Linked DNA regions of Homo sapiens. The protein of the gene in region 2 interacts with the protein of the main gene of each other region in a pairwise test. Each region holds a gene or a part of one and is shown on either strand. Other genes may lie near its edges.

Evidence for each region.
Region 1: the proteins of EXD3 (region 2) and PLSCR1 interact in a two-hybrid assay, tested with the Homo sapiens proteins (one large-scale study listed by BioGRID and IntAct).

What each region holds. Positions count from the first base shown.
Region 1 is NC_000003.12:146,527,537-146,531,120, forward strand, and holds part of PLSCR1 (phospholipid scramblase 1), read right to left. Parts: intron 1,296-3,584; coding exon 1,078-1,295; intron 1-1,077. UniProt on the Homo sapiens protein: Catalyzes calcium-induced ATP-independent rapid bidirectional and non-specific movement of phospholipids (lipid scrambling or lipid flip-flop) between the inner and outer leaflet of the plasma membrane resulting in collapse of the phospholipid asymmetry which leads to phosphatidylserine externalization on the cell surface.
Region 2 is NC_000009.12:137,346,585-137,350,168, forward strand, and holds part of EXD3 (exonuclease mut-7 homolog), read right to left. Parts: intron 2,951-3,584; coding exon of another isoform or gene 2,948-2,950; coding exon 2,785-2,947; intron 2,699-2,784; coding exon 2,526-2,698; intron 1,655-2,525; coding exon 1,487-1,654; intron 1-1,486. UniProt on the Homo sapiens protein: Possesses 3'-5' exoribonuclease activity. Required for 3'-end trimming of AGO1-bound miRNAs.

The DNA.
Region 1 (3,584 bases), on a different chromosome or scaffold from region 2:
CTTTTTTAGCCATCAAAGAGATTTTTTTTTACAAGTTTCAGATTTGTATTAAGCATACTTAATATCAACCTTTGTCATATGTGATAACATCCTTTATGTATTTTATGAGACTCTGATTTTTAAAATATCTATTTCTATGTATTTCTTGCATAATATAATAATGACCAAAAATTCCTATGATTATGCCACTTAAGCACATTGTGGGAAATTAAGTTACTAAAGAGAGTGCAAGAAAGAAATGATTTATGAAATGAAAACTGGTTGAATATCACAAGAATATTTGTATGTGTATAGACTGGACACACAGAGTTTCTTGTTTCTATTTGACCTACCTGATTTCTAACACCAATTAAATGTTAAACCTCTTATTGCTGAGATTAATTATAATTTAGTGCAACAAAATCCAGGACTTTTTACTCCTTTATTAATGGCATTTATAAAATTAGGTCTTCCAAAGAACAAAAGCAGCATCATAAAAATGCAGTTTTATTAGTTACAATAAAAAGGTGAGTCATATTATACATAAAATATTAACCCCTTGTTTGGGGCCACTTATTGAAACTCAACAATAAACTTTATTTAAATTTTCTTCCAAATTATAAGGCAATTATTCAGTATTGAGACTAAAGAGCACTTCGCTCAGTACCAAAGTTTCGGGATTAAAAAAACAGTCTTGACTCTTTAGGTTCTCACCCCAGAGTGAGCTATATAACCTCTCTGGACCTCAGTTTCTTCTTTTGAAAAATGTAGCACCTATACATCACAGACTTTCAATAAGGATTAAATGAGTTAATACATGTATCAGGCATACAACAAAGGCAGGAAACAGTGCTAATTAAATGTTTGCTATTGGCCATTATCATAGATTGTATTTAAGATAACAGAAAATACAATTTTCTAAGGCATTTGTATTTTGCTTTAAAATTGAACCAGACCTAGAAGAATTAGAGTAATCTGTTAGCAGAAAATACAGTTTTGCTATTTCAGACTTTGGTGAATTATTCATTTGCTAATCTGGTTAAGCAAGCTGGAAGCACAGTTCTGTTTTTTATGAGTATTTTGTGTCTTTGAAATTACCTGACTTAAATATTCTAATCCAGGTGGACAGTTTAATGGAGGCTGTGGCGCTGGCATCCATGGTACCCCTGCAGCTCCAACTGGCTGATTATATACTGGCTGATTATACACTGGCTGATTTGGGACAGGAAAGCCAGCTGGGCCAGGACCTGAATGGCCGGCTGGTGGGGGTGGGTAGCTGACCTGGGGCCCAGGGTAGCCACTATATCCTGGAGGTCCTGAAATACAAACAAGTGAAATGATTTGTAACTGCACCAAAAATGGAATTGTCAACCTTTTTAGGGTTATGCCATCTATCTATAAGTTGACATTTCAGCGTAGACATCTGTATCTGTGATGTTTAATACGCTTTTCTCTTTCTGAGATTTTTCAATGAAATATCTGTGGTTGCACATCCACTTCTATTTGGATGATAGTATGCGGTGAATAGCCTTACCCTTACCATTCAAAACTCAGAAGGAAAATATGCTTTAATATCTGAGAAAATGAAAATAAATAACCATGATCTAGAGTCACCTACATAAAGATTCTGGCAAGCCTTCAAGGGAAACAAACACGTCATTGGTAGAAGGCCCAAAATAATGGCTTTGAGTCAGCATTTCTAGGGCCAAAGTATCTTGTGAAAAATGATAATTCTGAAATTCTAGCAAATGCCTTATAATATATGTATAGAACTGGGGGTAGTTTTGCCCCCTCTCTGCCAGGGATATTTGACAAGATCTGCAGACTTTTTTTGGTCACAACTGGAGGGGAAGATAATACTGCATCTGGTGGGTAGAGGCCAGGGCTGCTGCTACACATCTTAAAAGAGCCAGAACAGCTCCCTAAAAATGAAGAATTGTCCAGCCCAAAATATTATAGTGCCACTGTTGAAGGTGAAAGCACGTCATTTCTTTCTTTCCATTTTTTTTTTTTTTGAGACAGAGTCTTGCTCTGTCGCCCAGGCTGGAGTGCGGTGGCATCATCTCTGCTCACTGCAAGCTCCACCTCCTGGGTTCACACCATTCTCCTGCCTCAGCCTCCTAAGTAGCTGGAACTACAGGCGCCCACCACCACGCCCAGCTAATTTTTTGTATTTTTTAGTAGAGACGGGGTTTCAGTGTGTTAGCCAGGATGGTCTCGATCTCCTGACCTCGTGATCTGCCCACCTCAGCTTCCCAAAGTGCTGGGATTACAGGCGTGAGCCACCGCGCCCATTCGTTTAGTACACGTCATTTCTTTTAGTACATTCCAGATGCCTGCTTGGGTTAATCCTTTGCCTTATGTTTTAATCCATAATGTATTGCTTTCCTAAGTCCTTCTTCATTAAAATAAAATTCTATTATAATATTTAGGTTAGAAATTTAAATTTCACAATTTAACATCCTTTGGTCTCTGGAAAATATAATTTGAGAAACAAGGATGGCAAAAAATTGTAAGAGGCAGAAATTTAATAACAGTAAATGTACTTCATATTCTCTGCGAATGTGTGATTACAATGAAGATTTATATACCTGTTTGTATGGTCCACAGTGTAGCAATTCCATAGCAGTGGAATACAATTTCAAAGGACTGTGTTTCTCAATATTTTAACATTAAAGCCTATGCAAAATGTAATACTTAGAATAGGAAATTTACAAATTCTTTTAAATGGATCATTTATGATAAAATTCATTTGCCCTTCAAAAATAAGGCTTAGAAAAACAGAATAAACCTCACAATAATGCATCATAAATATAGCTTTTATAATTTATTCCTTTATGATGAATGAATATTTACAAATGATCATAATGTGACTGGCTGTGTTGTAGAATATGAGGATACAATTCTCAAGGAGGCAGCCTGCTGTCAGAGAGCTTACAGTCAACTTCTGGGAGAAAGAAAACACATTTAAAACAAAAAAAATTCATATGGATGTGATGGAGAGAATGTATGCGAGCGAGGGCAGGGTATGAGGCAGTTACTTTGGGTAAATATAATTTATATCAAGGTCTAAAAGATGAGAAGAGAAAAGCTTTATATGAAGATTAGTGATAAATGCTTCAGGAGGAAAGAAAGGCAAATAGAATACCTCTGACTTTGTAATGAATTTGACAGGCGTAAAAGAGAGAGGAATGTCATAAGAAAGAAGACGACTAGGAAAGGCTGTTAGCAAAGCAACAGGAAGCTGTTCATCAAAGGAGGCCTTAGTAAGGAGTCTGGATTTGGTTCCAATTATGATTGGCAAGTACTGGAGGAATTTAAGCAGAAGAATGAGTTCCATGGTCTTATCTATATCTTACAAAATTTTCAGGAGTGGAAAAGCATTAGAATTTACAATGGAAAACACAGATGCAATCCCTGCCCATCATTGTTTAATGAGAGAGACAACTTTATATCCCCACTTATTCTAGGGAGCTATAATACCAGTGTAATTAATTGATTCATTAGAATTGGAGATAAATGCTTTCAAGTAAGAGACCACGGTTTTATGACTAGAGATGCCAAAGGTCGCTATTGAGATGGGAAGAGAAAAAGGGAAGGAGCAG
Region 2 (3,584 bases):
ATGGTCAGTTTCAGCTGCATTTACCAGCATCCCACCTCTATTTCTGAACCTTCGACACTTTTAATGTCCGTATTTCCACAGACGGTCGGTTTCAAGGCCCTCTAGGCTTTTCATGTTGTGATCCTCAGGACTCTCCCACCCTCCACTCATCCCCTGATTCTAAAACTACTTCCGCATGTTTAGCTGTGTGTTACACCAGCACCCCACTCCTGGTACCACAATCCACATTCTTTTTTTCTATTGTTTTGAGACGGAGTCTTGCTCTGTCACCCAGGCTGGAGTGCAGTGGTGCGATCTCCACTCACTGCTGCCACCTCTGCCTCCCGGGTTCAAGCAATTCTCTGCCTCAGCCTCCCGAGTAGCTGGGATTACAGGCGCCCGCCACCACGCCCAGCTAATTTTTGTATTTTTAGGAGAGACAGGGTTTCACCATCTTGGCCAGGCTGGTCTTGAACCCCTGACCTTGTGATCCACCCGCCTCGGCCTCCCAGAGTGCAGGGATTACAGGCGTGAGCACCCAGCCTCCATGTCATTTTTCTAATGCTGCTGTCACAATTTACTAAAAGCTTAGCAGCTTACAACATAGTTCTGTGGAAGTCCAGAAGTCCGGTGGACTCAACCAGGTTCTCTGCTCAGGGTCTCATGGCTGAAATCACAGTGTTCGCGACGGCAGGCTCCTCTTAGGAGACTCCGGGGAAGAACCTGCTTCTGGGCTTGGTCAGGTGTTGGCAGAATCTGGCTGCTTGTGGCTGTTGGACTGAGGTTTCCTTGTGCGGCGTCCTCCATCTTCAAGCCAACAATGGGACACTGAATCCTTCCTGTGCTTTGAATCTCTCTGTCTTCTGTGTTCCATTCCTGCTTTTTTTCTTTTTTTTTTAAGATGGAGTCTTGCTCTGTCAGCCAGGCTGGAGTGCAGTGGCGTGATCTCAGCTCACTGTAACCTCTGCCTCCGGTGTTTAAGCGATTCTCGTGTCTCAGCCTCCTGAGTAGTTGGGATTACAGGCGCCCGCCACTACGCCTGGCTAATTTTTCTATTTTTGGTACAGACGGGGTTTCACCATATTGGTCAGGCTGGTCTCCAACTCCTGGCCTCAAGTGATCCACCCACCTCGGCCTCCCAAGGTGCTGGGATTATAGGCATGAGCCACTGCGTCCGGCCCCATTTCTGCTTTTAAGGGCTCATGTGATTACACTGGGCCCACCCAAATAAGATAGACTCTCTATTTTAAGTTCAACTGATTAATAGTGTCAATTACATCTGTAAATTCCTTTTGTGGGACAATGAGGGCTGAGGCTGGGACCATCTCAGCCACTTGGCCCCCAACCGCTCCATCCTTGGCCACCCCGTCCTGTTCCCAGAGCCTGCCTGGCACAGCTGGCAGCCATGGATGAGCTGGAGGGAGGAGTTTGATGCTAGGGGTGGGCACACCTGTGCTAGGGGCAGCTGCACCTTGGGAGGACCCCAAGACCCTCCCCGCAAACTCACCTCGGCCGCCCTGCGGTGGTCTTCACCATTGCCCAGCATGCGTGCATCCACACCGAGACAGCGGAGGCTCCGTGCCAGCCCCTGCAGCATGTTGTCACACACCACACGGAAGGCCCTGGCCGGAATCTGAGGGGCAGCGCCCTCAGACACAGCCACAGCCACAGGGACCTGCAGTGAGGCCCTGGTCAGCAGTCCCACGGTCACCCCCCAGCCCCTCACAGCCTCAGAGAGCCAGGGCCCTGAGGCTGTGTGGCCAGCACTCTGTCTCTGTTTTATCTTCAAAAGATAAAACTGTGTGTGCTGTGCATAAAACAGCAGAAACGCAGACAAAATGCAGTGAAACCACCCCTGGGGGGCTCTAGTGCTCATGCTGGGGGGGCTCCACGTGTGTGTCTGGGGTGGCGTGTGTGCCCAGAGAGGGGTGGGGATCACGGGGAGGGGGCTAGATAGAGAGGGGTGGGGATCACAAGGAGGGGGTTAGATAGAGAGGGGTGGGGATCACGAGGAAGGTGCTAGATAGAGAGGGGTGAGGATCACAAGGAGGGGGTTAGACAGAGAGGGGTGGGGATCATGGGGAGGGGGCTAGATAGAGAGGGGTGGGGATCACGGGGAGGGGTTAGATAGAGAGGGGTGGGGATCACAAGGAGGGGGCTAGATAGAGAGGGGTGGGGATCACGGGGAGGGGTTAGATAGAGAGGGGAGGGGGAGGGGGCTAGATAGAGAGGGGTGGGGATCACGGGGAGGGGGCTAGATGCTGCCTTGGGCCATGGGAGGGGCCTGCCAGGCCAAGTATCAGGAGGGGACTGGGGCACTCAGGGGCACGGCTGCCTCCTGAGCAGTGACCCCCCAGGCAAGCGCAGCCCCCGTGACAGTCATGCAGGAGGTTCACCAGGACTTTGCTCCCCTCTCGCTCCAGGAGCTGGGCCCCCTCCACACGCTCTGACCCAGTGGCCTTGTCTCCATGCAGGTCCTTGGTTTATGGACAGGGATCTCCTTCCCCAAGAATGCTGACAAACGGACCCTGCGGGGCTTCACCCACCTGCCTGGGTGCGGCCGGTGCTGACGCTTTCTGCAGGCCGGGTGGCTTCCGTGCCCCTGGTCTCTCTCTGTGCCTGGGCCTCCGGCTCCCAGCCAGGTCCTCCGACAGGTGGAAGCGGGCGGGCTCTCTGCACAGGGCTTGGTGCACCTCCAGCAGGCAGTAGGCGTCGGCAGCTGTGTGGGGAGTCGGCCTCAGCCTCCCGGGACAGAGGGCGGGAGGGGCGTGAGGAGGGGTCACTCCCACCCGCCGCACCGCACACCTGCGTAGATGACCTGCTCCTCGCAGAGCGGCCTCCGGTCCCAGTTGGACAGCTGCTGCGTCTTGTCCAGGGCTGTGCCCAGCACCTGCTGCACCAGGAGGCTCAGGCCCCTCAGCTCCCTGGCCCTGTCCACGGCTGGGGCTGGCACGCTCGCCACCCGCATCTGCTAAGACAGTGCCCTGCAGGGTAACGCGTCTGGCCCTGGCGGCAGCACAGTCACCGTGCCCACTCACACCAGCCCTGCGGGGGCTCTGGAGGAGGCCCCGCCCCCTCCACCAGCGGCCCCCACAGCAGAGACGGGGAGAAGGAGCGGACACATCCGAGGAGAGGCTCCACGTGGGGGTCCCAGGCTGCAGGCACTGCACACCAGGGCCAGCTCCGGGGGCCCTGGTCAGCAGTCCCACGGTAACCCCGCCCAGCCCCTCACAGCCTCAGAGAGCCCGGGCCCTGAGTCTGTGTGGCCAGCTCTCTGTCTCTGTTTTATCTTCAGAAGAGGAGCACTGGGTGTGCCGTGCATAAAACAGCAGAAACGCAGACAAAATGCAGCGAAACCACCCCCGGGGGGCTCTAGTGCTCATGCTAGGGGCGCTCCACGTGTGTGTCTGGGGTGGCGTGTGTGCCCAGAGAGGGGTGGGGATCACGGGGAAGGTGCTAGATAGAGAGGGGTGGGGATCACGGGGAAGGTTCTAGATAGAGAGGGGTGGGGATCACGAGGAGGGGCTAGATAGAGAGGGGTGGGGATCACGGGGAGGGTTCTAGATAGAGAGGGGTGGGGATCACGGGGAAGGTTCTAGATAGAG